4 linked regions of the Homo sapiens genome follow. The protein of the gene in region 1 interacts with the protein of each later gene in a biochemical or structural test. Each region holds a gene or a part of one and is shown on either strand. Other genes may lie near its edges.

The links.
Region 2: the proteins of FOXO3 (region 1) and SMAD4 form a complex in vitro, tested with the Homo sapiens proteins (one study listed by IntAct).
Region 3: of the proteins of FOXO3 (region 1) and PTPA, one has a biochemical effect on the other in vitro, tested with the Homo sapiens proteins (one study listed by BioGRID).
Region 4: the proteins of FOXO3 (region 1) and ERBIN interact in a test that uses a peptide from one of them, tested with the Homo sapiens proteins (one study listed by BioGRID).

The regions. Positions count from the first base shown.
Region 1 is NC_000006.12:108,556,749-108,563,925, forward strand, and holds the start of FOXO3 (forkhead box protein O3), read left to right. Parts: upstream 1-4,168; 5' UTR 4,169-4,460; coding exon 4,461-5,081; exon of another isoform or gene 5,082-5,275; coding exon of another isoform or gene 5,276-5,395; intron 5,396-7,177. UniProt on the Homo sapiens protein: Transcriptional activator that recognizes and binds to the DNA sequence 5'-[AG]TAAA[TC]A-3' and regulates different processes, such as apoptosis and autophagy.
Region 2 is NC_000018.10:51,025,436-51,033,212, forward strand, and holds the start of SMAD4 (mothers against decapentaplegic homolog 4), read left to right. Parts: upstream 1-4,777; 5' UTR 4,778-5,188; intron 5,189-7,777. UniProt on the Homo sapiens protein: In muscle physiology, plays a central role in the balance between atrophy and hypertrophy. When recruited by MSTN, promotes atrophy response via phosphorylated SMAD2/4.
Region 3 is NC_000009.12:129,114,415-129,121,438, forward strand, and holds part of PTPA (serine/threonine-protein phosphatase 2A activator), read left to right. Parts: intron 1-6,098; coding exon 6,099-6,196; intron 6,197-7,024. UniProt on the Homo sapiens protein: PPIases accelerate the folding of proteins. It catalyzes the cis-trans isomerization of proline imidic peptide bonds in oligopeptides. Acts as a regulatory subunit for serine/threonine-protein phosphatase 2A (PP2A).
Region 4 is NC_000005.10:66,076,567-66,083,062, forward strand, and holds the end of ERBIN (erbin), read left to right. Parts: intron 1-308; coding exon 309-383; intron 384-1,856; coding exon 1,857-1,964; 3' UTR 1,965-5,980; downstream 5,981-6,496. UniProt on the Homo sapiens protein: Acts as an adapter for the receptor ERBB2, in epithelia. By binding the unphosphorylated 'Tyr-1248' of receptor ERBB2, it may contribute to stabilize this unphosphorylated state.

The sequences.
Region 1 (7,177 bases):
TTTAAACTTGCAATATTTCTTTTTAACATGTTTTATACCCCCAAGTAACATGTCTTATACCCTCAAGTAAGCTCTTTGAGGGAAATGGCTTTATCATGTGCCTGCCCCCCATTCCTCACTGTGAAGTGAAGCTCACAAGGCTCTGTTAATCCACTGAATCTTTGACTCCTCCACTCTTTTGGAATGCCCCTGGGATATGTGTTCTGTAAATGGACACTCAACATGTTTATAGTGAAAATCTAATGGCCGAGAGCCCAGCCACTGTAAACACATTCTTTCTACTTTTGCAGGTCTGCACTCTAATGACAAAAGATTGCTTAGATTTAGAGAAGAAAACGCGTGGATTTCTTCTACAGTGTTACAAGTATTTAAAGCCAGCAACGAAAATTCTTGGAATTTTATGCTGCATCACGATGCGCGGCCCTGGGTGATCTAGCCTTCCAGTTCTTCGTGCAAAGCTGAATACCAGCTTTTAACCACCACCATACCCAACCCGCACCCCAAGCACTGGCACTTGAAGCCGAGTTGTGGTCATACATCACCATCCACACTCCCAGGCTGTAAACCCAATGCAAACCTGGGGCTTCTCAGTGGGACAGGCCTACAAGGAGAGGAGAGGTGCCTCGTGAGGAGGAGCCACCGCAGTAAGCAGTCAGAGCCCCCTTCCCCAGACTCCCCCTTCCAAGGGCAACCCGAAATAGCAGAAACGCTTTTATATGTGGGCAGAGCCGCATGCCCACGAGACAGGCACATGTGGACTGCGGGCATTCGGTACAAGGAAGCGAGGACACAGAGTACGTAGGGTGCTGAGGGTCCACCTCGCAGCCAAAGTATGTGTGCCAGTGAGTGTGTGCAGCTTGTGAGATCTGCTCTAGAAACCGTGGCCGCGGACTGGCGCGGCCTCCTGGGCGAAGCACAAACAGGAGGCTTTGTTCCCTGAATGTGAGAATGAGGGAGCCGAGCTGGGCGCAAAGACGGCGGCGTTCCGCGGCGGGAAACCGTCGTCTCCGCCGCGGCTCGGGCAGCGCGCGAAACTCTCAATCAGGTTCCCCGGCCCGGGCCGCCGGCTATGCCAGCGGCGCGCAGTGGGGACAGCCTAGCTGTCTCGCGAGCAGCGCCCGGAGAGGCCGCGCCGCGGGCCCCGCCGCGTCCCTCCGCCAGCGCGGGCGGCCCCACGCGCCCGCCACTCGGCAGCGCAGCCAGCGCCACATTCCATTTAAAAATAACACCCACGTGCGCTGGTAAACAAGCGCGCGCGGCTACCAGGGCCGCGCGCCCCGGCCCAGTGTGTGTGGCGCGCGCCCGCCCTCCTCCCGCACGTGTCGGCCGGCGCCATTCAGTCCCCGCCCCCTCGGCGGGTCGCGCCCCGCCCCCGAGCCCCCAGCCCCGCCGCTCCGGGCCCTAGCGCCCCCTACCCCGCCAGGCGCGCCCAGTCGAGTGCGCTGCAACTTTCCTCCCCCGACGCCTCCTCTTCGCTGGCAGACCCACCGCCCCAAGTCGGCTGCCTTCCTCCCGTCCGCTGTCCTCTCGCGTCCCCCCTTGAACCCTCCCACCGCCAGCGCGCGAAGGATTGGTTTCTAGTGCGCCCTCTCCCTTTTTCCCTCTCCTCTCTCTCCTTCCTTAGAATTTTACTCGATTGTTTATTATTTGCTGGGGGGCGGGGGCGGGGGGGCGGAGAGGGGCGTCTGGGGCCTGGAGACTGGTGGCCGCGGCCAGTCAGCGCGCGGCGTGCCTTGACGAGTAAGCGGCGCAGCGAATGGCGACGCGGCGGAGAGCTCCGGGGTCACGCGCGTGTGGATACGATGACATCATCTGTTTGTACGCGTCGAACTAGCTTGGTGCAGGGGCGGGGCCGCGCGTCACTTGAGTGACGGGCGCTGCGCAAAGCCCGGAGCCCGGAGGCGGCTGGGCGGGCTGGCTCTTGCGTACGCTGGGCTGGACCTTTTTGTGTATGGGGTCGTTGAGGAGCCCGCTTCTACACTCTGAGCTATCTCCGGTGACTTACAAGGATTTTTTAAAAAATATATTTATGAACTAGTGTGTAGACTTTTGGTGTGCATGTCGCGTGTGGTGCATTCGTAGAGTACAAATAAACGATTTGGGGCACGGATCGTAGAATAAGGACTTGTGCAGATGTTTTTCGTTTAACCTAAAGGATACGTCTTTTTTTAAAAGTCAAAAATGCCCACGTAGCGGTTTTGTCGTCATTTACAAATTAGATTAAAATTATTTCCCCTTCTCAGTTGTTCGGAATCTGCTCTTGAATGTAGGACGGGGGTAAATTTGCATTTCTTCCGGAGTTAGTTACACCTCTCCCCCGTTTGCCATGAAACCCATGAAAAGTGAAACACGACTGTGGTCCACCGTCCGAGGTGAGAGACTCAGTGCAAACCTTTTGGTGCCTGATCGAATCTGTGAGCATCAGCTTATCGAAGTTGTGCAGGCACCAACATCTTCGCCGTTCAGTATTTCCACACCGCGATAACCCTGCCCATCTTGCGGCCAGCATCTTATCTCGGGTGTTACCTGGTGTCGCGTTCTAACAGGGAACCGGACACCGGGGCTGGCCCAGAGCCCGGCGGGCGGACGCGCAGGCCAGGGACCCCCTGGTACCAGGCGCCCTGCCCGGAGTCAGGGAGGCCACGCCGCTGCGCTCCTTGGAGCGTCGGGGGCTGTGCGCTCCTGCCGCTCCCCCTTCTCCCTCCTCTCCCCACTTCTTCCTCCTCTCCTCCCTTCTCCCCCCTTCTCCCTCCTCTCCCGGGCCAGCGCCGCGCTTTGTTGTCGTTGAGACTCTCGGGAGGGAGGAGGAGCCCAGCGGGGACAGCAGCGGGAGCCCGCCGAGTCCCGGCCCACGGCGCGCGCCCGGACACCCACGCCCGCAGCCCCGCGGAGCCGGGCCGCGCAGGCGCGCGCGAGCTCACACACGCGCACTCACACACGCACGCCCGCCGCGCGCCCGGCCCGCCGCCCAGCCCGCCGCCCAGCCCTCCCCCTGGGCGGGGACCCGCCCGCCGTCAGCCTAGGTTGAGGCGCCCTGCGTGTGTCTATAACTTTGTGCTGCTGCCGCGGCCGCCCTGCTCGTGGAAGGGAGGAGGAGGAATGTGGAAGGTGGCGGCGCGCGAGCTGACAGGCGGTTCCTCGGGCGGGCTGCGGCGACGGCCCGAGCGCTTCTCCTTCGCCGAGGTTGCGCGCCCCCTCCTCGCCGTGCCCCGGGCCCGCGCGGGATCGTGCGTCGTCCCGCCGCGTCCCTGAAGGGAAGGAAGCGAGGTAGGCGCCGGAGCCGTGCAGCGGGCGGCCGCCTTCCCGGTGACTCCGGATCTGCTTCCGAGCTGGGCCGGGCGCTTCCCTTTCCCCTCCCTGAGCCGCGGTGTGCGCGCCCCCCTTCTCGCCCGCTAGTGTTTTTAAAGGACTCGGGAAGGGGGAAACTGTCAAGATGGCAGCAGCGGGAGCAAGGAGGTGATGAACGTGCTGGTCCGGGTTTTCTAGCAGCCCGGGAGACTTGGCGCTTCCCGACCTGTTGGAAGATTTATGTTCCGACTCGCTCCCTCCCCCGGATCCCGACTGGGAAGGGGGCGGAGGGGACGACGTCCGCGAGAATGCAAACCACACAAAACCCCGAAGTGGCCGTCCCCGCCGGGCTCGAACCTCTGCGAACACCCGCTGGGCTGCTGCTCCCCCTTCTTTCTGTCTTTCCTTTATTTTTTGGAAGTGACAAGGGCCCATCTGCGCCCAGACCCCCGTTCGCCCTCTGGCCCGCGGGCGAAGAGGGGAGAGGGAGCTGCCCGCGCAGTCCCCGGGCTCGGGCCATTCGACCGGGTGGGGGGTGACGGGGGGTCGCGGAGGCGGCCAGGCTAGGAAAGGGGAGAAGAGCCGAAGACAGCACAGACTTGAGCGGCGGCGCCGCGGGAGGCACTAGAGCGGGCCCGAGCGAAACATAAACAAACGCACGCACACCCGAGCTCGGGCTCTGACCGCGGCTCGGCTGCGCCAGCTCCGGCCGCTGCCCGCTTTAAAGGCGCGGCCGCCCCTCCCCCGGGCGCCCCTCCCCCTTCTCCCCGCCCCGCCGCCTAGCCCGGGAGGGACCTGCGGCTGGGCGGCGGGGGGAGGGGGCTGCCCCGCGCGAGGCCGTCGATTCGCTCGCGGCTCCATCGCGGCCTGGCCGGGGGGCGGTGTCTGCTGCGCCAGGTTCGCTGGCCGCACGTCTTCAGGTCCTCCTGTTCCTGGGAGGCGGGCGCGGCAGGACTGGGAGGTGGCGGCAGCGGGCGAGGACTCGCCGAGGACGGGGCTCCGGCCCGGGATAACCAACTCTCCTTCTCTCTTCTTTGGTGCTTCCCCAGGCGGCGGCGGCGGCGCCCGGGAGCCGGAGCCTTCGCGGCGTCCACGTCCCTCCCCCGCTGCACCCCGCCCCGGCGCGAGAGGAGAGCGCGAGAGCCCCAGCCGCGGGCGGGCGGGCGGCGAAGATGGCAGAGGCACCGGCTTCCCCGGCCCCGCTCTCTCCGCTCGAAGTGGAGCTGGACCCGGAGTTCGAGCCCCAGAGCCGTCCGCGATCCTGTACGTGGCCCCTGCAAAGGCCGGAGCTCCAAGCGAGCCCTGCCAAGCCCTCGGGGGAGACGGCCGCCGACTCCATGATCCCCGAGGAGGAGGACGATGAAGACGACGAGGACGGCGGGGGACGGGCCGGCTCGGCCATGGCGATCGGCGGCGGCGGCGGGAGCGGCACGCTGGGCTCCGGGCTGCTCCTTGAGGACTCGGCCCGGGTGCTGGCACCCGGAGGGCAAGACCCCGGGTCTGGGCCAGCCACCGCGGCGGGCGGGCTGAGCGGGGGTACACAGGCGCTGCTGCAGCCTCAGCAACCGCTGCCACCGCCGCAGCCGGGGGCGGCTGGGGGCTCCGGGCAGCCGAGGAAATGTTCGTCGCGGCGGAACGCCTGGGGAAACCTGTCCTACGCGGACCTGATCACCCGCGCCATCGAGAGCTCCCCGGACAAACGGCTCACTCTGTCCCAGATCTACGAGTGGATGGTGCGTTGCGTGCCCTACTTCAAGGATAAGGGCGACAGCAACAGCTCTGCCGGCTGGAAGGTGCGTACCCACCCCGGGCTGGCAGCAGGACCCGCCGGGCCTCCTGCGCAGCGCGAGACGCGTCTCGGATTCGTCGGAGTGCGCTTGCGGGCTCCAGGGCAAGGGGTTGGCAGGGGGAGCCTCCGCTGCGAGGCTTTGGGGGTTATCTTTGATCCCCGGAGTCGGGGCACCTGGGGACGGTCTCGGAGGGGTGAATGAGGCTCCCCAGAAGCTTGGGGCATGGCCAGGTGAGGAGAGGGGGCAGGGGACGCCGGCGAGGGAAGGGCGAACGGACAGGAGTACATTTGCTGGATTCTCCGGACAGCACCGAGGAGGTAGGTCCGCAGCCAACTTTGGAGTAGAGTTTACCGTAGTGGGGGTCTGGTGCGGGCGCTGTGGCTGGAGTGAGAGGTGTGGGGGTGTTTGGGACGCAGTGTCTGGAGGAGGGGTTGGATGTGTGGTTTCCAGTCTGTCGCAGGAGCATGTTGCGTCGTCACTAGCTGAATGAGAACCTTCGGGTCCAAGTTTCAGCTTGTGGGTGTTAACACCTACAGGCACATCGATCCGATTAGAAAAAGCAGTGGTTGCAAACCTTTTCCTGGACGGCTTCCTTTCCTTGCCTATATTGATACCTTTTCTTCTCGGAGATGTCGCTCCAGTAAACCTGCTTCTGACTAGCTGCTTCTGAAATGTTCTGGGGCCTCGAACCGGCCGGTCTGGCCACCTCAATCCAGACTGGCTGCACCCGCTGCTCCCGCCGAGGCCTGGATTCAGGCACTGTTTGAGGGAAGGGCTCTGGTGTGGGGGACGCGGGGCCTGCGCTTCATTCACTCTGGCGTTTGGGAGGAGGTTTGGGGGCTGGGCCGGGCCGTAATGGCTTCTACCTGTAAATGAACCCGAAGAGAGACTCTCTACCGTTCCTTATCATCCTCTTGGGGCACGGGACACGTGGTAGGGAGAGAGGTGTGGAAAGGCCTATGATGTAATGACTTCCTGCAGTTGGGTATCCAAAGAGATTAACTCCTCTGCCCCTGCTGGGCTGCTGATATCCAGCTGCTTTCCTCTTCCTAGGCACCTCCCTGGCCCCTTCCCCCAAGACAGTGTGTGTCAGTACCAGGCCAAAGAGTCCTGTGCGATTGGAGATATACATCTCTTATCAGCTGCCCATATTTGCAATTTAGCTTAGATTTTTTTTTGTTTTGTTTTATGTAAAAGAAGTAGTTGCTTCCTCCTTCCCTTTCTTCATTGTCATTGGGGAGCCCTCTGTCTTCCTGGGTTTCAGGAGGTATAAAAATAAGAACAGTTTAATCTTAGTGGAGAATTCAATGGAAGCACTGGAGACGAGCCTGTAGATGAAAAAGTTAAAGAACTTAATGTAGAGAATGTTTTATTTTGCTTCTAGAAAACCCTTGCAAAGTTAAATACGGCTTATATCAGAGAGGCTTTGTATTAGATACTTTAAAAGCAAAACACGTGTGCTTTGATATTAATCCACTAATGTGTCTCATTTCTTTTAACAAATGCTTACATTATGAGTCTTATATTTGGTTTAATTCAATTGCTTTGTAAAAGAATGCCAGGTGTATGATACGAGAGTTCTTTACAGAAAGGATGAAAGTTAGACAATTCCATTTGAAAAGAGCACTAGTGTGATATGTTTTAAAACTGGGTTTCCAAGTGGATGGGAAGGGTTAATCAGTGTATAGTATCAGGAAGGCGTAAGCGGACAGGATCTGAGAACATGGATTTGGGGGTTCGAAATGTTTTTCAGATTTCTCTCACTTGAAATTTAGTCTTGCATGTTTGAATTTGGTGAGGAGAATACGTTAGTGAAAAGTTAGTTAACTTTAAACTTAGTTAAAACGTTAACGTAGGAAGGCGTTTTCACCTTTCCTGTGATTTTTAAGGTTACAAAAATAATTTAATTTCACAAATATTTCTTGTTATTTTGTTTATAGTTAAATATAATAAGTTTAATGAACTTTATTTTTGGGGGGAAGATTTACATGAGATAATGGTATTACCAAAAGTAGCCGCGAATTGAGATTGGGCTAGATACATTTTCATATAGTTTGTAGGACTTGCAATACAGATTTTGGGACTAGTCATAAACTTTA
Region 2 (7,777 bases), on another chromosome or scaffold:
TTCTACTACATATGTATGGAGTCTTAACATACGTATCATGCTTGACATGTTTTTGAACTTTGTATAAATGGTATTGTATGGGATGTATTCTGCTGTTGCAGAATGGGAGAAGAACTGCAGACAAAGTATAGAAAACTCTTTTAGAAGTTTTGTTGTAAAGGGAGTAGAGAAATAGGTGATAGCTGACAGTAGAAATAGGTCAAAGAGAAGAATCTGTAGGATTGGAAAAATCACAGCTGCTTGTAAGCTTATCAGAATGACCCAGTAGAGAAATACTGATAAAACAGAATAGGCGGATAATTGCTGGAGTGACAGTGAGGATCTTGATTAGGCAAGATAGTACTGGAATCTATGTCTTGGTGACAATACTCCTTTAGCTAGGAGCACGGCAATTCAACCATGTGAGGGTGGGGAAGGCAAAGTAGAGGCTGGTATGTGGGTGTGGGTGATGCTGAGATTCTGTGGAATTTTTTCTCTCATTGCTTCAATTTTCTAAACAAGGCTATTAATTGAGAATGATTGAGGAGAGGACATGCAACTTAGAGGACAGAGAACGTACAAAATCCAGAAGAATGGAGGCGGGAAGTAGAATTGCTGGACAGCATTAAGGGTCTATCTGAGGTTCATGGTGATGAAATTAAAGTGAAGGTAGTCAGTGTGATTGTGTTCTTCTCTCGCCACATTCAGATGCATGGGTGCCAGCTTGAATCAGGGTTGTGGCTTTGCCAAGCAAGCACAACAAAGGGAAAAAAAGGCAAGGGGGCTGAGGGCATGTGTAAGAGTGATTGTGATTGGCTGGGGGTTGAGGCTGGGTGACAGCAGATATGAGGGTTCAAGAATTGTTGCAGTTAGAGTACTATAGGGAGTGATCTGGAAAACTGAGGTAGTGATCAGGGTGTGAGATGTTTGAAACTGAGATAATGAAGAAGTTGCAGAGTTTGATAAGGCTACGGTGATTATGACCATGGGAGGAAGTGGCTGAGTTAGGATATGTGCAAGTTTGAAGTTAGAGAAGGTACAAAATCTAGAATGATCAAGGGGAGGATGTGTAAGTTAGAGGACAGAGAAGGTATAAAATCCAGAAGAGTGGATCAGGGAAGTATAAGAGAATTGCTGAACAGCACTAAGGGTCTACCTGAGGTTAATGGTGAACAGTGGGAGTCTCCAGCCAACAGCCAGGAAGGACTGAGGCTATCAGTCCTGAGGCCTGCAAGGAACTGAATGCTGCCAACAACCACATGAGCTTGGAAGCAGATCCGCTATCCCAGCCTCACTTTGTAGAGGACCCAGCTAAGCAACGCCTGGACTCCTGACCCAGAGAAACTGTAAGATCATAAAATTGAAGCAATGAAGAAGATCCTTGAGAAGAAGAAAAGGAACTGAGAGGCCAGGGTACTGGGAAGATCTTATAACCACCTACCACTAGGACAGAAGTGGCATTGGAGTGAATGTCAGGAGCAAATTGTGCAGAGATGAAGCGGGGTGAGGTCAGCGATAGAGGTATCGGACAGCAAGATTTAAAGCTGCCGGTTTAGAGGAGGAGGGGGATGACCTGGAAGCAATGTTGAGAAGCAAGAAGGAAACCTATCTCACCTCCAGGCACTAAGAAGCTGAAGGTTGAAAACACAGTTGCCGGAAGTAGTTCTGTCCTGTGGGGTTCGGCATCATGCAAGTTCCCCCTGGGCTGTTCTCTGATACAGGGCACTTGCTCCACACTCTGGGAACCCAGATTAACCAGTCTGCCCTGTCACATAGTTGAAGGAGTTGCATTTATCTTTCTGGCTCCCAATTCCTTTAAAATTACATTTGTTGCAGAACCTCCACAAGGCTAAATAAAATAAAATTACATTTGTGACCATCAGAGAACTGAAGAACTATTAACTGGCTGTTCTGGTTTTGCTGAGATCGGGCTGTTGACAGTTCCTGGTTGTCCCACAGCTACCCATGTCAGTTATCTCCACTAACATTTCCAAGAATCTTTGTAGGACAATTTCTCCACCTGCAAGGTCTTTCAAGTAAGAACTCTTCTTTCCTTTAAGGCAATTAGCCCATTGCCAAAAGGTTTTACTGTCTTAAAGCTGGAACTATCTGAGATCTAATTCCAAGGACTTTTCTACAGCTAAGTGAGATGCCTCACACCAGTATTAGGTGATTCTTCGTGAGGACAGAACAGAGCATTTTCATCTTGTGTTTAAAGCAATTTGTTGGCTTCGGCTCCTCACCACTTTCTATACCAGTCTCCCATTCACGTCCCTAGTAATGCCTATGCCAAAAAAAAAGAAAAAAAAGAAAAAGCTGACGGTGAAACCTACAGGTTTAAGGGCTTAAATCTCAACCTTTGTGTTAGGAGTAACAGGAGTGTGCTGAGAGGGCAAGCAATAAAACAAGTCATACCAAAAGGCCACATTGGTCTCTCCTAAGCCCCAATCCCACTCCACTCCTGTGGCCAGTAGTCCAAACAGAAAATAACTGGAGAAGACGAGGAGGTCAAGGATCAGGAAACTAAACGTTATGTGAATTCACCAGCAAGATGTACAGAACGCTTGCGTTTACATTGTTTTTATGGAACTAGCAGAATAAAACTGATCTATTTTAAAAATGAAAAAAAAAAAAAAACAAAAGAAAGAAAACACAGTTGCCACTACTTGAGAGGTGGAAGGAGGAGCAGTGTCCCAGGGCAAAGTTGGGTTTCCTTAAGTAAAAAGGTGAAGGGAACCTGAAGGGAAATTCTGAGAAGAGGTTGAGCTTACAGGGAATATCATTTGCATAAATAAATACATGGTGTGGTAGACTCTAAAGAGGCCCCATATGATTCCCACCTCCTGGTGTTCAAGCTTTTGTGTGTTTCCTTCCCCTTCAATGTAGGTGGCGCCTGTGATTTGCTTCTGGCCAGCAATGTATGGCAAAGGTGACAGAGTATGAGTGATACTGTGTATGTGATGATGTTACATAAGATTGAAACCAGTGTCTTGCTGAGACTCTTCCCGTTGCTGGCTTCGAAGAGGCAAGCTGCCATATTGTTAGCTTCCCTATGGAGAGCACCACATGGCAAGGAACAGAGGGGGTCTCCAGCCAACAGCCTGCAAAGGACTAAGGCCCTCAGTCCTGTAGCCTGCAAGGAACTGAATGGTGCCAACAACCACATGAACTTGGAAGCAGATCCTTTGTTCCAGCCTCACTTTGTAGAGGACCCAGCTAAGCCATGCCTGGAATCCTGACTCAGAGAATCTGTAAGATCATAAATGTTTGTTGTTTTAGGCTTCTATATTTGTGGTGAGATTGTTATACAGCAATAGGTAACTAATACAGACGGAATAGAAGAAGTTTAGTTATAACAATGTCTCAATTTCTTAAAAACTTCTTCTGAGGTATATTACCTAAGATTCACATATTGATCTGTTACCAAATCATGTTTTGTAATCTATCAGCTGACAGATCTTCCTTCAGTTTTGTTGACAGAAAAGATTTGAAAACTATCTGACTTGAAAAATAATTTAATATCCATTCACTAAGGTCATTTACTTTCTCAGCATAGATACCGATTTTTGAATTGTCCCTTTTGGATTGCTGGGGAGGTTCTGCATTGATCCCATGCACCTTAGTAGTGGGTGAGAATTTTGACTTTCTTCTGTAAGGTGGGAGGACAGTTTTGAAAGGGGATGCTGTGTCCTCAGCTCCTTTCTCAAGCTGGGCAAGTTTAGAAAATAGAATATATAGCAATGGAAGATGTGGAAATGAATTCCCTTAAAACTGGTCTCCATAAACCCCAGGGGTAAGAGAACACCAGTTTGGAGCTTTAGGGGCTTTCTGGTCAAAGAGGGAATGGCCCAGGCGGTGATGTGGAGGATAGAATGAAGCACTGAGTATGAGTGGCGAAGGCGTACGGTGGGTGTAGAGATTTTCTGGGCGACGTGACCTAAGAAATGACTTTAGAACTGGCTAATCATTGGTTTTGGAGGGACTAAAAGTAGTTCCTGGTTGGTGAAAATAAATCATTAATGCGTTTTAAATGAAAAAGAAATGCATGCGTCTTGTAAAAAATGTGAAATAAAAGAGGCATAAAGTCAAAAGCAGAGCCTATGCCTTCCCCCACCAAACAAACAGGTAACCTAGTTAACAGGTGTGTCGTAGGATTCGAAGTTCGCCTCCAGCTCCGAGAGTGCGCCTACATCTCTTCCAACAAAATCCACTCACACTTGCAACGCCTGGCAAGGCTCTTCAATATGTGATTCCTTGACTGTCCTGTGCGTCTCTCGAGTGTAAACACCTCTGGGGCTCGTGATTCGGGGCTGCCAGAAAGAGAAGGAAGGTGCCGCCAGCGTCTGTTTCTTCCCGAAGTGAACTCCTACAACCTAGCCACCTTCTCCCCAGAGCTGTCGACTGGCTGTTGAAGGCCAATTTTTGTGCCTACGCAGGTCCTCAACACAGAACAAAACAAAAAAACAACAAAGGCCGGGCTAATAGCTATTTATAAACACTTACTGGACGCCCACTCTACGCCGAGCTCTCCCGCGCTCCTTGGATACTTTTTTGCAACGAGATGCCAATTTCCCCGGCGACCACTCCCTCAAACAGGCCTTCGCCTCCGCCCGCGCTGAGGCCCAGGCCCAGGTCCAGATTCAGAGCCGCCCGCCGGCTGGCGCTGCCCTGTAGGCGCCTGCGCAGAGCGACCCTCCCCGTCACTCGGAGCGGGAGGCGGGGGCAGCCGGGAGAAAGGAAAGCTGCGGGGGAAAAGGGCCAAACCCTGAAATTACCCGGATGTGGTCCCCGCGCGCGCATGCTCAGTGGCTTCTCGACAAGTTGGCAGCAACAACACGGCCCTGGTCGTCGTCGCCGCTGCGGTAACGGAGCGGTTTGGGTGGCGGAGCCTGCGTTCGCGCCTTCCCGCTCTCCTCGGGAGGCCCTTCCTGCTCTCCCCTAGGCTCCGCGGCCGCCCAGGGGGTGGGAGCGGGTGAGGGGAGCCAGGCGCCCAGCGAGAGAGGCCCCCCGCCGCAGGGCGGCCCGGGAGCTCGAGGCGGTCCGGCCCGCGCGGGCAGCGGCGCGGCGCTGAGGAGGGGCGGCCTGGCCGGGACGCCTCGGGGCGGGGGCCGAGGAGCTCTCCGGGCCGCCGGGGAAAGCTACGGGCCCGGTGCGTCCGCGGACCAGCAGCGCGGGAGAGCGGACTCCCCTCGCCACCGCCCGAGCCCAGGTAACCGCGCCATGTCCCCTCCCCTTCCCCCGGCCGGGCCCGCGCACCCCGCCTGTGGCTTCCCCGCCCCGGGGCGGGCTCCCGACGACGGCGGCGGCGGCGGCGGCGGCTGGGAGCGCGCGGAATCCTCTGGGAGGGCGACCGCGGCGGCCTGACGAGCCGGGCCGGGCGGGCCGGCTGAATGCCGGGCGGCGGTGCCTCGCGTCCCTCGGGCCCCCAGCTCCGCTTGCAGCTCGTGGGAGAATCAAGTTAAACTCGGACGGGACTCCTGCCGCGGCCGCCGCTCCTCTTTGTTGTTCTCAGTAGTTTCACGGTCGCCCCGGCTGAGCGCGTTGGGTCGGCTGGAATGTGTTGCCTTAGGGTCTAAGTGAAAGTTGTAAATTGTTTGTCTAAATTTATTTTCTCCAGCCAATTTCTGTTTTGTCTTTGTCCCCTACTTTCTCTTCCTAGTCTTGTCATGCCAGTTTACGCTTCTGGCTTTGATATGTTTACTTTTTGAGTACTGAGAGTGACAGCGGTATGCAGGACACATTCTTAGCACCTAACTGAACCCCTCCTTGCCCCCAATAAAACATGCTTCCTAATAAAAGACACAGCTGATCTTACTGTTAGCACTGCATGTACTGACAGTGAAATTGGTGTAGGGTGGAGGGCGGTGGCTCCATCACTTGTCCCAAACTGCTGTTAGGATTTCTCAAACTAGATTTTCAAAGACACAAGTGTGTTTAGTTAACCTGAAAGGTTTATTTGCTGGTGCAGAGGCTTTAAAAAGCCCTGTTGAAGATTGATAGCTGTTTCCCTTCAAAAACCTAAGTACGTTTGTTTTTATTTAAAAAAACACATTTATTTCCCAATTAGTTTCTTAATGCATTTAGTTTTTGCACCGTAGTTTAAGGTGGAATTGCCAGTTATTTAGGAATAATAAACACAACAGGATAATAGCGGAATTACCCTGAATTGACTTTCTGCAAACATATAATCTTAGCTAATTTTTGTTAGTAACCTTTGACTTTTGCCAGAATTAGCATCCTTCTAGTCTTAGTAGCAGCTTGGTTACTCGGGTGTTTTAAGAAGTAGGTTCACTCCTTTTTGCTGGCAAAAACCATTTAGTATCAAAAAAAAAAAAATGCGTAATTTCGTAATTAGATTTAGAACAAGGCATTTGAATAATTTTTATGGTGGATTTCATAAATTACTTTTGCCATACCCTGCAGAGACTAGATAATATATATTTCAGTTGAAATCTAGGAAGTTCTAAAATGTAACTTTTTTTTAATGCTAAGGACTTACTCTCTCTATATTGGAAAGTTCTGATATGATTAGTACATAATATTCCAAACTGTAAAATGATTAACATTTAAAAATACGGTTTTTAAAATTAGTGTTTCTTCCATAATGCTGTCATGATTTTGTTTACTTAAATGGGTTTGTTACAGAACAAATGTAATAGAGATGGACCAAGCATTTGTAATTCGGAGTAGCTTTAGGTCTAAAGACGATGGTGAATTATGTAGGTTTAAGTTGTTGGAATTAAAACTAAAAGCTTCTTTTGATAAAAGTCGTTATAACATTTTGTGACTCTATTAATAGAAGTGGCTTTTTCTTTGCTTTCCAGGTTTTTGGGCGAGTTTTAAAGAAGTATTGCATCTTCGTTTTTTTTATTTTTGAAGTGGGAGTGTATGTTTCTGTTTAGGTCACTGCCTTCATTGTAAATCTTGAGTTTAGAAAAAACCAAACTGCAAATCTGTTTTTCAGACTTAATGAAAATTTGTGCCGAGAAAGTCACTTTGAAATATTTTGGAATAAGTTTTACATGAATGATTGATCTTTTATGATAGCTTTGCTGTTTGAAGCAATTCTCCCTCTACTAGGAAGCAGCAAATCTTACTTTTAAAAACCTCTGCTTCACTTTCTTAAGCTACATTTTAGTCGAGCGATTGTGTGTGAATTCTTTTTCTGTATTCCCCTTCAGTTTTTCTTTCTCCCCGCAAATTAAGGAGCGAGAATTAACCTAATTTATGCTGCCCAGTCACACTCCAGCTCTCCCACTTGGAAGCAGTTTTTTTCTGATTGAGCCAGTGTTATAGTAACATCATTAGACACTATTCTAATTGAGGTGTGAGTTACTGAGGCCTCTGCTAGGGAGGTTAACCCTACAGAATCTGTAGGGTTCATTATATTTAAACTGCATATTTCGGCTTGTCTAAATTTTTGCCTATTTTGGTGAAAACATGTTGTTTTGTCGATGTTTAAACTTAGTTCATTTTGTCCCTCTCTAGTTCATGACTAACCATTTTTTTCATTTTTAATCCAGCGATTTTTTTAGAGTGGTTCTTTAAGCATCTTGTATTAGCCATTTCAATGGTCATTATATATGTTTGGATTTCTCTTATTTTGTTGAACTAGAAGACTGTGTGGTTACGCCCCAAAATTTTTTTTTGTCTTAAAGCCATGATGAATGGGGTGACTCTGAGGTGACCATTAATCGCGTATAAAAGTAACCTGACTAAAATGTTTTCATTGTTTTCTACAGTTAAAGGACTTACACCAGCATAACACAGCATTTTTTTTTTTTTTTTTTTTTGAGAT
Region 3 (7,024 bases), on another chromosome or scaffold:
ACTTCTCTCTTTTTTAAAATTTCTTTTTTTTTCCCTGAGAAAAAGCCTCAGTTATTTCTTAAAATAACTATAGGCTACTATACTTTCTTCATAGAATTGTAGTATGTGTTTTATAAGATGTGTGCAAAGCATGGGACATAGTAGGCGATCAGTAAATGCTGATTGCCCTTATCTTTTTCAAAGTTTCAAAGTTGTACAGGTTGAACATGTAGACGAGTTTCAAATGGCCAATGATAATGCTATATATTATAGTCTTTGTTGGGGGGCTTAGGAAGGAACATTTCTAAAATTCTGAATGTTGATTTTATACTGTGAGGTTGTTGGGAATCCACTGTCCCTTGGAACCTATGTCTCTATAACCTGAGGCTGGAGAGACTGTGGGCGTGACCTCATTTATCACCATCCTGCCTTTGAAGGCTTGTTTCTTTGATTTGGGATTGTGTGTTCTGGCAACTTGTGTGTGTTTCATCAGTAATTTGTTATAGTGCTTCCTGGTAAGGTAGCCTTTTCCCAAACATGGACTGGCCTGAAGGCTCTCTTCCTGTGAAATATCCCGGTTAAATAATGTCAGGAGTGCCATCCCTTTTTTTATTTTTATTTTTTGAGACAGAGTCTCACTCTGTCACCCAGGCTGGAGTGCAGTAGCATGATCTTGGCTCAGTGCAACCTCCGAGGAGAGCTGTCCCTTTGCAGAGAATGGTGATCTCACACATATAAAAGGGCTGTATGTTCCCAAAGATTATTTCCAAGTTGATTATTTGGAATGTGGGACACATTTTCCCATAAAAGCAATGTGGTTGGGTTACTAGTCTGACCTACAAAGCTTTTTATTTGGCATCTTAGTTGAAGTGCCAATTTACTAATAGCAGTTTTGGGTTCTGGGAACAGAGCTTGCAGGACAGGTGGGAGGAGGAAGAGAGCTTCTGATCTCTTTCTGGGGCCTTGGTTTGAGTTAGGCAGAGATTTGTCTTTCTCTAAACTCAGGTTCTCTATCCTTCTCCTTAGGTCTCCAAGTCCCCTGGCACTTTTCTTTTCTTCAGTTCCTCTCCAGACAGGCTCTATTTCTCCAAATGTTATATGTTCCAGAAACTTCTTAGGTCCCTGTCCCTTTTTCTCCATGTAGCTGATGTCAGCCAGGTTTTAGGAGGAAGGCAGGGGGACAAATTTATACCAGGTTGTGAGTGATTGATGATAGTCCTTTACTCTTCCACTTTAGGGAGAGTTTGCATTTTTTTTTTTTTTGAGATGGAGTTTCACTCTTGTTGCCCAGGCTGGAGTACAGTGGCGTGATCTTGGCTCACTGTAACCTCTGCCTCCTGGGTTCAAGTGATTCTCCTGCCTCAGCCTCCCGAGTAGCTGGGATTACAGGTGCCCACCACCACGCCTGGCTAATTTTTTTGTATTTTTAGTAGATATGGGGCTTCACCATGTTGGCCAGGCTTGGTCTCAAACTCCTGACCTCAGGTGATCCACCAGCCTCCGTCTCCCAAAGTGCTGCGATTACAGGCCTGAGCCACCGCGCCTGGCCAACTGCCTCCTGGGTTCAAGTGATTCTTCTGCCTCAGCTTCGCGAGTAGCTGGGACTACAGGTGTGCGCTACCATGCCCGGCTAATTTTTTTTTTTTGAGACGAGTCTCGCTCTGTCGCCTGGTCTGGAGTGCAGTGGCGCGACCTCGGCTCACTGCAACCTCTGCCTCCTGGGTTCAAGCGATTCTGCCTGCCTCAGCCTCCTGAGTAGCTGGGATTACAGGCACTCGCCACCACGCCTGACTAATTTATTTTTTATTTGAGGCGGAGTCTCGCTCTGTTGCCCAGGCTGGAGTGCAGTGGCGCGATCTCGGCTCACTGCAAGCTCTGCCTCCTGGGTTCACGCCATTCTCTCACCTCAGCCTCCCAAGTAGCTGGGATTACAGGCATGCGTCACCTCGCCCAGCTAATTTTTTTTGTATTTTTAGTAGAGACAGGGTTTCTTTTTTTTTTTTTTTTTTTTGAGACGGAGTCTCGCTCTGTTGACCAGGCTGGAGTGCAGTGGCACGATCTTGGCTCACTGCAAGCTCCGAGTTCCATGTTCTCGCCATTCTCCTGCCTCAGCCTCCCAAGTAGCTGGGACTAAAGCACCCGCCACCATGCCCGGCTAATTTTTTGTATTTTTAGTAGAGACGGGGTTTCACCGTGTTAGCCAGGATGGTCTCGATCTCCTGACCTTGTGATCCGCCCGCCTCGGCCTCCCAAAGTGCTGGGATTACAGGCGTGAGCCACTGTGCCCGGCCACACCCGGCTAATTTTTGTTATTTTTAGTAGAGACAGGGTTTCGCCATGTTGACCAGGCTGGTCTTGAACTCCTGAGCCCAGGTGATCTGCCCACCTCTGCCTACCAAAGTGCTGGGATTACGGACATGAGCCACTTCACCTGGCTAATTTTTAAATTGTTTGTAGAGATGGGGGTCTCCCTGTGTTGCCTGGGCTGGTCTTGAATTCCTGGGCTCAAGCGATCCTGCCGCCTGGGCCTCCCAAAGTGCTGGGATTACAAGTGTTAGCCACTGTGCCTGGTCTAGATTTTCTTCTTTCTACAAGTTATGAAAATTTCCATTATGTGGGCATATAATTAATTACACATCATCTTATCAACTGATATTTGGGTTGTTTCTAATTTTTTTTTGTTTTCAAGACAGGGTCTTGCTCTGTCACCCAGGCTGGAGTGCAGCTCACTTCAGCCTCAGCCTCCTGGGCTCAAGTGATCCTCCCGCCTCAGCCCCCGAATAGCTAGGACTACAGGTGTGCACCACTACACCTGGCTAATTTTTGTATTTTTTGTAGAGATGGGGTTTGGCCATGTGGTCCAGGCTGGTTTCAAACTCCTGGACTCAAGCAATCTGCCTGCCTCGGCCTCCCGAAGTTTTGGGATTATAGGCGGGAGGCACTGTGCCTGGCCTAGATTTTATTCATTTTATAAGCTATGAAAATTTTTATTATGTGGGCCTATCTTTTTTTTCTCTTTTTTAAATTTGAGACGGAGTCTTGCTGTGTTGCCCAGGCTGGAGTGCAGTGGCGTGATCTTGGCTCACTGCAACCTCTGCCTCCTGGGTTCAAGCGGTTCTTCTGCCTCAGCCTCCCGAGTAGCTGGGATTACAGGTGTGCGCCACCATGCCTGGCTAATTTTTTGTATTTTTAGTAGAGGTGGAATTTCGCTATGTTGGCCAGGCTGGTCTTGAACTCCTGGCCTCAAGTGATCCACCCGCCTCGGATTCCCAAAGTGTTGGGATTACAGGTGTGAGCCACCACACCCAGCCTCTTTTTTTTTTTAAGACAGTCTCACTCTGTCACCCAGGCTGGAGTGCAGTGGAACGGTCCAGCTCACTGCAAGCTCTGCCTCCCCAGTTCAAGCGATTCTCCTGCTTCAGCCTCCCAAGTAGCTGGGATTACAGGTGTGTGCCGTCATGTCAGGCTAATTTTTGTATTTTTTAGTAGAGATGGGGTTTCAATATGTTTCCCAGGCCTGGTCTGGAACTCCTGACCTCAAATGATCCACCTACCTCAGCCTCCCAAAGTTCTGGGATTACAGGTGTGAGTCACCATGCCGGACCTGGGCATATCATTATTTACCCATTGTCTTATCAACTGATATTTGAGTTGTTTCTTTTTTTTTTTTTTCCCCCGAGATGGAGTCTTGCTCTGTCAACCAGAGCTGGAGCGCAATGGCACGATCTCAGCTCACTGTAACCTCTGCCTCCTGGGTTCAGGCAATTCTCCTGCCTCAGCCTCCTGAGTAGCTAGGATTACAGGTGTGCGCCACCACACTTGGCTAATTTTTGTATTTTTAGTAGAGATGGGGTTTCACCTTGTTGGCCAGGCTGGTTTCGAACTCCTGATCTCGTGATCTGCCTGTCTTGGCCTCCCAAAGTGCTGGGATTACAGGTGTGAGCCACCACGCCCAGCCTATTTGGGTTGTTTCTAATTAATAAAAAATTTTTTTATTTGAGTCAGAGTTTCACTCTTGTTGCCTAGGCTGGAGTGCGATGGCACGATCTTGGCTCACTGCAACCTCTGCCTCCTGGTTCAAGCAATTCTCCTTCCTCAGCCTCCCAAGTAGCTGGGATTATAGGCATGCGCCACCACACCTGAATAATTTTATATTTTTAGTAGAAATGGGGTTTCACTATGTTGGTCAGGCGCATCTCCAACTCCTGACCTCAGGTGTGATCCACCCACTTTGGCCTCCCAAAGTGCTGGGATTGTAGGCATGAGCCACCGCGCCCCGCCTAAAATTTTTTTTTTTTTAAAGTAGAGATGGGGTCTCGCTGTGTTGCCCAGGTTGGTGTCAAACTCCTGGACTCAAGTGATCCTCCCACCTGGGGCTCCCAAAGTGCTGAGATTACAGGTGTGAGCCACTATGCCCAGCTTTTTTTTTTTTTTTTGATGCATTAAACACCTTTGTGTTTCCGTGAGCACATCTGAAAGATAGATTCCTGTAAGTAGACCTGTTGACTCATTGTGTATATGCAGTTTTTTATTCCAAAAGATTGTCCCCTTAGGAGGTCCTTCCCACCCACAGAGCGGGAGAATTCTTGTTTCCTCTTCCTGGAATCTTGTTTTGTTTTTATTGAGACAGAGTCTCGTTCTGTTGTCCAGGCTGGAGTGCAGTGGTATGATCTCAGCTCACTGCAACCCCCACCTCCTGGACTCAGGTGATCCTCCTGCTTCAGCCTCCCAAGTAGCTGGGACTACAGGTATGCAACCACACCCAGCTAATTTTTAAATTTTTTTTGTAAAGATGGCGTTTTGCCAAGTTGGCCAGCCTGGTCTTGAACCCCTGGCCTCAAGTGATCTGCCTGCCTTGGCCTCCCAAATTGCTGGGATTAGGTATGAGCCACCACACCTAGCCAGATGTTTTTAATTTGCCAACCTTATCCAGAAAGAGAAATCACATATAATTTACGTGTCCGTGCTTATTCAGGAGGTTGGCAATTTATTCCAAATGTTTACTGCAATTAGGTTTTTTTTTTTTTTTTGAGACGAAGTCTCGCTCTGTTGCCTGGGTTGGAGTGCAGTGGTGCAATCTCGGCTCACCACAAGCTCCGCCTCCCAGGTTCACGCCATTCTTCTGCCTCAGCCTCCCAAGTAGCTGGGACCGCAGGCGCCCGCCACCACGCCTGGCTAATTTTTTTGTACTTTTTTAGTAGAGATGGGATTTCACCATGTTAGCCAGGATGGTCTCGATCTCCTTACCTTGTGATCTGCCTGCCTTGGCCTCCCAAAGTGCTGGGATTACAGGCGTGAGCCACCGCACCTGACCTGTTTTTTTTTCTTCTGTGAATTGCCTGTGTATGTCTGAAACATCAACTTGGTTTTATTTTTCTAACGGTTCTGCTCTGGGGGGGAGAGGGAAGGGAGGGCATGGTTATTGAAGGGATTGTCAGTATTGCCCTTCTCTTTCCTCCCCAGAGTGAGGGAGGGCAGGAGGCTGTGGGTTTGGCTTAACAAGCCCTTACTCTGTCCTGGAAGTATGTGTCTGGTTTATTCTAAGGCTCAGGTGTTGGAGTCCTGGTTTAAAAGTGAGAGAGAGGCCGGGCGCTTTGGCTCATACCTGTAATCCCAACACTTTGGAGGCCAAGGCGGGTGGATCACCTGAGGTCAGGAGTTTGCGATCAGCCTGGCCAACATGGTGAAACCCCGTCTCTACTAAAAATGCAAAAATTAGCTAGGCATGGTGACATACGTCTGTAATCCCAGCTACTCAGAACACTGAGGCAGGAGAATCGCTTGAACCCGGGAGGCAGAGGTTGCAGTGAGCTGAGATCGCGCCACTGCACTCCAGCCTGGGCGACAGAGCGAGACTCTGTCTCAAAGAAAAAAAAAAAAATTAGCTGGGTGTGGTGGCACGTGCCTGTAATCTCAGCTACTCAGGAGACTGAGGCAGGAGAATCGCTTGAACCCTGGAGGTGGAGGTTGCATTGAGCCAAGATCGTGTCACTGGACTCCAGCCTGGGCAACAAGAGCAAAACTCCGTCTCAAGAAAAAAAAAAAAGGTGAAAGGGAGTGTGTGTGTTGTAGGGGAGGATTCTATTTATCTGTTTGTTTTTTCATTTTTTTTTGTCAAGATTCTTCAGAGGAGGCCCCTCCAGCCACTCAGAACTTCATCATTCCAAAAAAGGAGATCCACACAGTTCCAGACATGGGCAAATGGAAGCGTTCTCAGGTACCATTTGGAACTGTGGTGAGAAACTTGGGCTTTTCAAAGACAGTGGTTTTCCTAGCATGACGGGCGGTGAGTTCCTGGCCCTTCTTGCTCTTGGAGCCTGACTTTTCAGAAGCTAGGGAGAAAGGTGACAGGGGAGCTGGCTGTCTCTTCCCTTCAGAGGCAGTACTCAGAGATGCTTTATCAGGAAGGTTGCCTACTTTTTCAGGCTGCTGCCAGGGTAGCCCGGGAGAGTTCCGCTCCTGGTTCTCTTAAGCCATTGCCCCTTGAGTGTTGCTGTATTGGCTGAACATGAGTGTTTGAAATGATGGAGCGAGTCACTTTGATTCTTGGCTGCAAGTAACAGCAAGTGTGGCAGCCAGTGCCTCAAGGGGAGAAGAGGCTATCTCATGGAAACTTTGGCCAGGGATATGGCTAAGCCTGCAAATACCTGGGAGCTGGGACCCAGAGCACTGGGCACAGACTGGCTTTCTCTGCTGCTCAGCTGAAATGATGGGCAGAAGATAACTACTTGTACCTCTCAGGCTTGTGGTACAGGCTGTGGAAAGACAGACTGAGCAAAAGAAAGCCAATTTCAATTTCTCAGGGAAGGCCTCTGGCCCAGTTCTCGTCAGGCTCCTGCTCCCGGCCTGGTGAGCTGGGCTGGAGAGTGTTGCTCATGCAGAAGGCTGGGCACAGGGGTCCTTGCATGCTGGGCAGATTCTCCAGGAGACCCACACCCTACAGCTTCTATGCCTTGTCCTCACTGGGGCTTGGGGCCATCTAAACCTGTCTGATTCCTTTTTCACAAGCCTGCCCTCTCAGTATTTGGAAATAGTTATCATGTCT
Region 4 (6,496 bases), on another chromosome or scaffold:
TCAGTTCAAGTTAAAACAATTTAACCAAAAACTATGAATGTTTATGATATAATGAAATGATTTTTAACTTTCTTATTGCTTTTTCACACACCTATAAAAGTAATTTTATTACTCTCAAGAGAAATCACTAAAGTCAGAATTACTAGAGGTAAAAATAACTAGTTTGTTACAGTATTACTCAGAGAAGTCAGGGAGAAAACTTGTACCATGATTCAAATATTTGCATGGTGTGGAGGAAAAATTGCTCCTTGGTACTCTGTTATTTATACATACTGTTTTTAGTTAAATAATTTTTTTTGTTGTTAAAGGGTATATTTGTAACAAGGGTACAACCTGAAGGACCAGCATCAAAATTACTGCAGCCAGGTGATAAAATTATTCAGGTAATTAAAATAAATCTTTTTTTTTTTCATTTTATAACACTCTAATGTTTTCACAGTTTAAAATGTTTTCACTTTAACTTTGAAAATTGTGGGTGGGAGGCTGAGGCAGGAGAATGGCGTGAACCCGGGAGGCGGCACTTGCAGCGAGCCGAGATCGCGCCACTGTACTCCAGCCTGGGCGACAGAGCGAGACTCTGTCTCAAAAAAAAAAAAAAAAAAAGTTTGATACATCATAGGATTTTGTTTAAGCTCAGGAATGTTAATTTTTACTAATTTGAGGGGGATTAGAGTACCACTTCTTGGATGTGGGCTATTGTCCTTTCAGAAATGGAGAAGAAAAATTTTAAATCTGCGAAACTCATTTTTTCCTGTCCCCTCCTTTTCTTTGTTCATTCAGCTACTCATTTTACCTAAACACTTACAGTCTTAGAAGGAAGACAAACCTAGGACACAAGTATAGCTCTCATTTTCTACCCCTACTGTCACCGTTCTTAGCTGAGAACTAAAGAACTTAAAAAATAATCCTCAAACCAAAAAAAAAGGGAGAGAGAGACATTAATGTCTAATAGCTGAAAGTACAGATTCTGAAAGCCAGACTGCCTGAGTTTAAATTCTGGTCCCAACACTTTCTAAAAATAAAACTAATTAAAAAAAATTTTTTTTGAATAATTTTAAGCTTAGAAAAAAGCCACAAAAATACTACAACAAACACCAGTATTACATCAATTGGTCACCAGTCGTTCATAATTTGCTACATTGTCTTTATCATTTATTCTCCTCTTTCTTCTCTTTTTCTCCCTCCCTCCCTCTACACACACACACACACACACACACACACACACACATACACACACACACACAGTCACACTCACTCATACAGTTATACACATTTATTTTTCTGAACCATTTGGGTTTCAATTTGTGACTGAGCAAGTTACTTTGCCTCTCCATGCCTGGGCTTTCTCTTCTCTAAAATAAGATAGTGAAAGAATCTTTTTTGAGCATTATGAGAATCAAAGGATCTAATTCATATTACACCCTTAGAATTGTGTGTTTGGTACACAGTAGAACCTCAGTAAATATTAAGCTTAATTGTAAGAAATATGGTGGTCTTGATGTGATGGCTCCAAGACAATGGGAAGAGTAGCCCTTGCCCCCTGCTACGCTACAGTTTGGTCACCTCAGATACACATTAGCATTATACGACACCATGTCTGACATTATTTCTTAAGTAAGTGATTTCTAACATTGGGCTGCTACATAAGAATTGGCTGAGAAGTTGGACAAAATACACATTTTTAGACCCCATCTTCAGAGACTTTATTCCTTGGTTTGGGTAGGGCCTGTGAATCTGTATGTTATTTTAAGTTGCCAAAGTGATTCTTATTTTCTTCCAAGTTTGTGAACTACTTGGCAGAAATGCAAATAAATAACTATAAAATGTTTTTCCTAAAAGCATTTTTCCTCTTCTAGGCTAATGGCTACAGTTTTATAAATATTGAACATGGACAAGCAGTGTCCTTGCTAAAAACTTTCCAGAATACAGTTGAACTCATCATTGTACGAGAAGTTTCCTCATAAGCACTGTGGACAAAAAAAGCGGGGAAGACAGCAAGATTTATTGGAAGATACTTACAGGGGAAATTAATATTTTGACTATTTTTATATATAAAGAAGAACTCAAAAAATTATGTTCAAATTTGTACATTAATGAAATAATGGAACTTGTGGTTAGAGGGAAAGAACCACTGTACAGAATATAAAGGAGACTGTTGAATTCATACCATATAAAACTTGTTAGGTTTTTAAACATAGCAATCAAGGCTACAAAAACAAACCTGTGTTGTTTTTGTATAGATTGTAGGTTTATTTTTGGATTTCATATACATGACTGAACTGTGTGCAAGGCAATAGTTAGCCTTGATTTTAGCCCAGAGACAGATGGCAGAGCTATCTCTCTCATAGCTTTTATGCCCTTATTTTTATTCAACTGGTATTAATGTTTTTCTCCTGAAACTACTTTTTTTGATGTGGGCAAGAGATTTGAAGTGTTGGCTTTTGCTATGTGCATATTGAATTGAAGAGTGAGTAGGTGAAGGTGGTGCTGGTGGGTTCACTTTCCAAGGCCAGACTAAAACAGTTATTTTCTATAAAAATCTGGAAGCAAAGAATGGGGATGGGGAGAGCTACGTGGTAGTATGTTTTTATTAGGAGAATAATGCAATAAAATATGTAATGTCTTTTTTATAAAGCAAAAAAGACAATAATTGCATTTATGAGCTCGGCAGGATCTGTTCTTGTCATAGCCATTGACTATACATTTGCTACTGGTGATTCAGTTTTTAATTTTTTAGTCACAGGAAATTTTTAACTCTACTGTAGATGCATGTCCATGCATTTTCTGTGTTATGGAAATCCACTGATTTTTTTTTTTTTTTCAAATGGTGGTACTTGCAATCTGTTTTATAATTAGTGCTCCATTTAAATCTAATTTATAATTTTTATTTTAAGCAGCAAATGAAACAAAAATGGCCAGTTTTAAGATTGTGTTGCCTGTAACACAAAATGTTACGAAGGTTTAGGAAAGCCTCTTTGATTTTTGTTTGGCCTTGCATTGCCTTGGTAAAGTAAAAGGAAACAGTACACTTGGAGCTAGGAAACCAAAGCAAGCTTTGTGAAACTGGCACAGTGATAGAGAATTGCTGTGGAGAGTTATAGAGCAAAGGGATGGGTCCTTGAGGCCTGCCAGTGTGTAAAGGTGTTCAAATAAAGGGCTGTTTCTACAGGTAACATTAAATGTGAACTCAACACTTCCAGAGTCTTTAAAGGGTTTCTATGTGTATCAGTGTAATAGTGTTTTACCACCAACTGCCTTTCTTTGTTCCTAGTTACTGTAACAAATATTTGATGATAGAGGTTTATTAATTTTGTTTATCCAGACCATTAATTTTATTTGTTTTTGTTCTATGTAATCAAATAAAATTTGAGTAACATGTAATGGTAAGGATTAATGCATGGTTATTTGGACCAGAAAAAAGTGCCATAGAAGACCAATAACTGTTTAGTTGAGGCTAGTCTGGAACCTTTCATTAGAGCAATATTTGGTTATTGCACTTCATTTTTATTTACTAAGAAATGCAATTTGGGAATTTTTAATCTGTTATGCTTTGTTTATCAACCTTGATTTTAATTAAGACTTTTATAAGACTAGCTTAAAACACCAACCAACATTATTTTTGCAAAAGTGAGTTGGACTCACTTTCCATTCTTGCTAGTCAGAGTAAGTAGGCAGCACTTTTAAAAATATGTGAACTCAAATATTGCACTTCTTTCAAGATGTTATCAATTGGTTATTGTACTGTATAGTTTTAATAATTTTGATTGAAACCCTTTAACAACTCTTTGTAAATTTTAACTCATTTTAGTTGATTTTCAGTACTATTTACATAGGAATTGATTTTTATGGATATAGTAGAAGAAATGTGCTGTATTTTGATAAAATTCACTTATTGTATGTGTGTTGTAATCTAAAAAAAAAAAGAATGACAAACAGCTTCTTTAAGACAAGTCTCGGTGTTCCCTTTATTCTTAGTTTGTTTTTAAATATTAATTTTGGCATTCTAAAATAGCTAACATTTCTTTTATTGATTTCAGATTTTCACAGGCACATTCTACTTTTAATCAGAAATATATTTAATAAGTATAATTGTGAAGTTTTCAACTACTTTACCTTGAACCACATATACCAATTATAATTTTGGAAAAGGAATTAAGCCTCACGGAACAATGGATCTTCAGCAAACCTTAACTTCATTGTCTGCACATTACATTGAAGTATTATAAATGCAACAGATGTTATATGCACTGGCATTTTATCCTACTCTAGTTAGTTAAAATTTTATAGTATTCTTGCAACACATAAAGTTGCGTAAGAAACTTTACCAAGAGGAGTATTATAGCCAAGTTTTCTTTGAAAGTATTGGAAAACTAAAATTAAATGACAAGGACTTTGAATTAGAATTTTGCTGTAATAAAGTTTCAAAATTTGAATAAAATAATTAAATTTTTTGAGGAAGTGGAGAAGACATTTTTAGTTTATATATTGTTGAGTAAATTGTAGTTAAGGCCTATACCCATAACTAACTTTAGTAAGTATTATATAGCAATTCATCAAAACCACAACTGTCTTTTAGTGATTTTGTCTTTAAGAGTAATTTCTTACTCTAACCAGTAAAAAAATAATACTGATCAGAGTAATTTATACGGCATACAATAGTTGATACAATCTAAAGATTTATGCTAATTAAGGAATTATCACTTCATCTGAATCAATGAAATTCTAAAATTCCCTACATATTTATTTTGTAAATATTCTTCTGACCTCTTTGGACTGGATATGAAGATATATATATATACACTTAATTCTTTTAAACACAAAACTTGCCATAAGCAGAACCAAACTTTTAAGTATTAATTTGCTGCACTTAAAAAATCCCATTAGCAGCTATGTAATATTTTTATCAACCAACATTTATTCATTCCAAATTTTTGTATATATCTAGATGAAGTAACACATAGAGGATAGATAACAAACTAATGATGTTTAAACTGGTTTATTTACAAAATTCGGGGTTAGAGAAATTCTCATGAAAAATATACAATTTTTTTTTAGCATTAAAACCCTGTATATCTAGGTGTGGAAGAAGTGTAGTTTATCTCAAATTATTATTATTTACTTCTAAAGGGAGGCATTAAGATGGGAAATGTTTCTCTGATGGAGATTGACGTGTGAAATCTATTTGGAAGGGTATTTTTTTCACTCAGTCTGTTGCATTCTTACAGCCTTCTGTTTTAATGTTCAGTGAATAGGTTTCTTATGAAATGGACATTGAAATAAAAATTATGATTCAAGAGCATTAATTGATGAACAAGTGAACAAGATGCCTCTTTAAAAAAAAAAAAGAAAAAGTAATCTAGACAGGCAGCCAACTCAGACCTTTGGGTATTCCTTTGTTTCTAAATAAGGACCTTCAGAAAAAGTTGACCATATTCTACCTAAAGCTGCTAATTCTTTACAGAATTCATAAGCCCAGGGGATAGTAAGTAGTCATTTAGTTTTGGAAAGTTCTTAAGAGAATGCTATCTTCTACAGTCTCATGAAGCAGTTTTTCAAGATTAGAATCTGTGGTCAGCTATAACGTACAGTCCTAATATCCAACCACCTGAGAAGCTCATCCTAAGCTGAGAAAGCCTAAAATGTTAGAGAATGTTTAGAGAAAACACCTGAAATTTTTTTTAAGAGAACAACCTAGGTTTTATTGTAGAGAACAATCAAAATACTCCTGAACCTTTCTATAGAATCTTTAGGAGAGAGGCTGACAAAAAGAATCCTTCTGTTACAACTTTCTTTTCTAATGTAACAACCAGGGACAATGGTGATCTGTCACGCATCTGCCCATCTAGCTTCTCAATCGGCCCACGGTTTTATTTCAGGATAAAATTTGAGAAACTAGTATCACTGGGGAAGGAAGAAACCTAAGCTGTAAAATTATGCTTTTCCCCTCAAGGGATTCAATAAAGCTTATTTTTCATGAAAACAAGCCTATAAATACTGACTTTCCTTAAACCTAATCAAATTGTGTTCCTCCAAGGTATAGCTTTAGAAGGATCTTCTTTCAGTTGCTCTTTCAAACTTTTCCTTGTTAGAAAAGAAAAACTAATACAAATTGTTAAAAAATTAAAGCATGAGCAGAGAGCATGGATTTTAGATGATTTTAAGTTTCCTCATCTTCATGAAAAGAAGAACCTAATACTCTGAGAAGTAATGCCTGTCCAGAATGCACACTAAACATCTCATATTTGGATCATCCTTCACTGCAGCATCCCTCAAAGGAACATTCATTCTCCCAAGAACAAGAGGAATTGTTTGCAGATAAATTATTCAAGGTAGCAAAATGGAGCATGCTTCAATCTCCTCATCCTGTCCACATACCTACAAAGGACAGAAAAGATTATTAATACTATGATAGGCAAGAGTGTTATGTAATAATAATATTACCAGTTTTGTAAAAAAAAAAAGGGAGTACACTGGATCCATAATTTTTTTTTTTTTT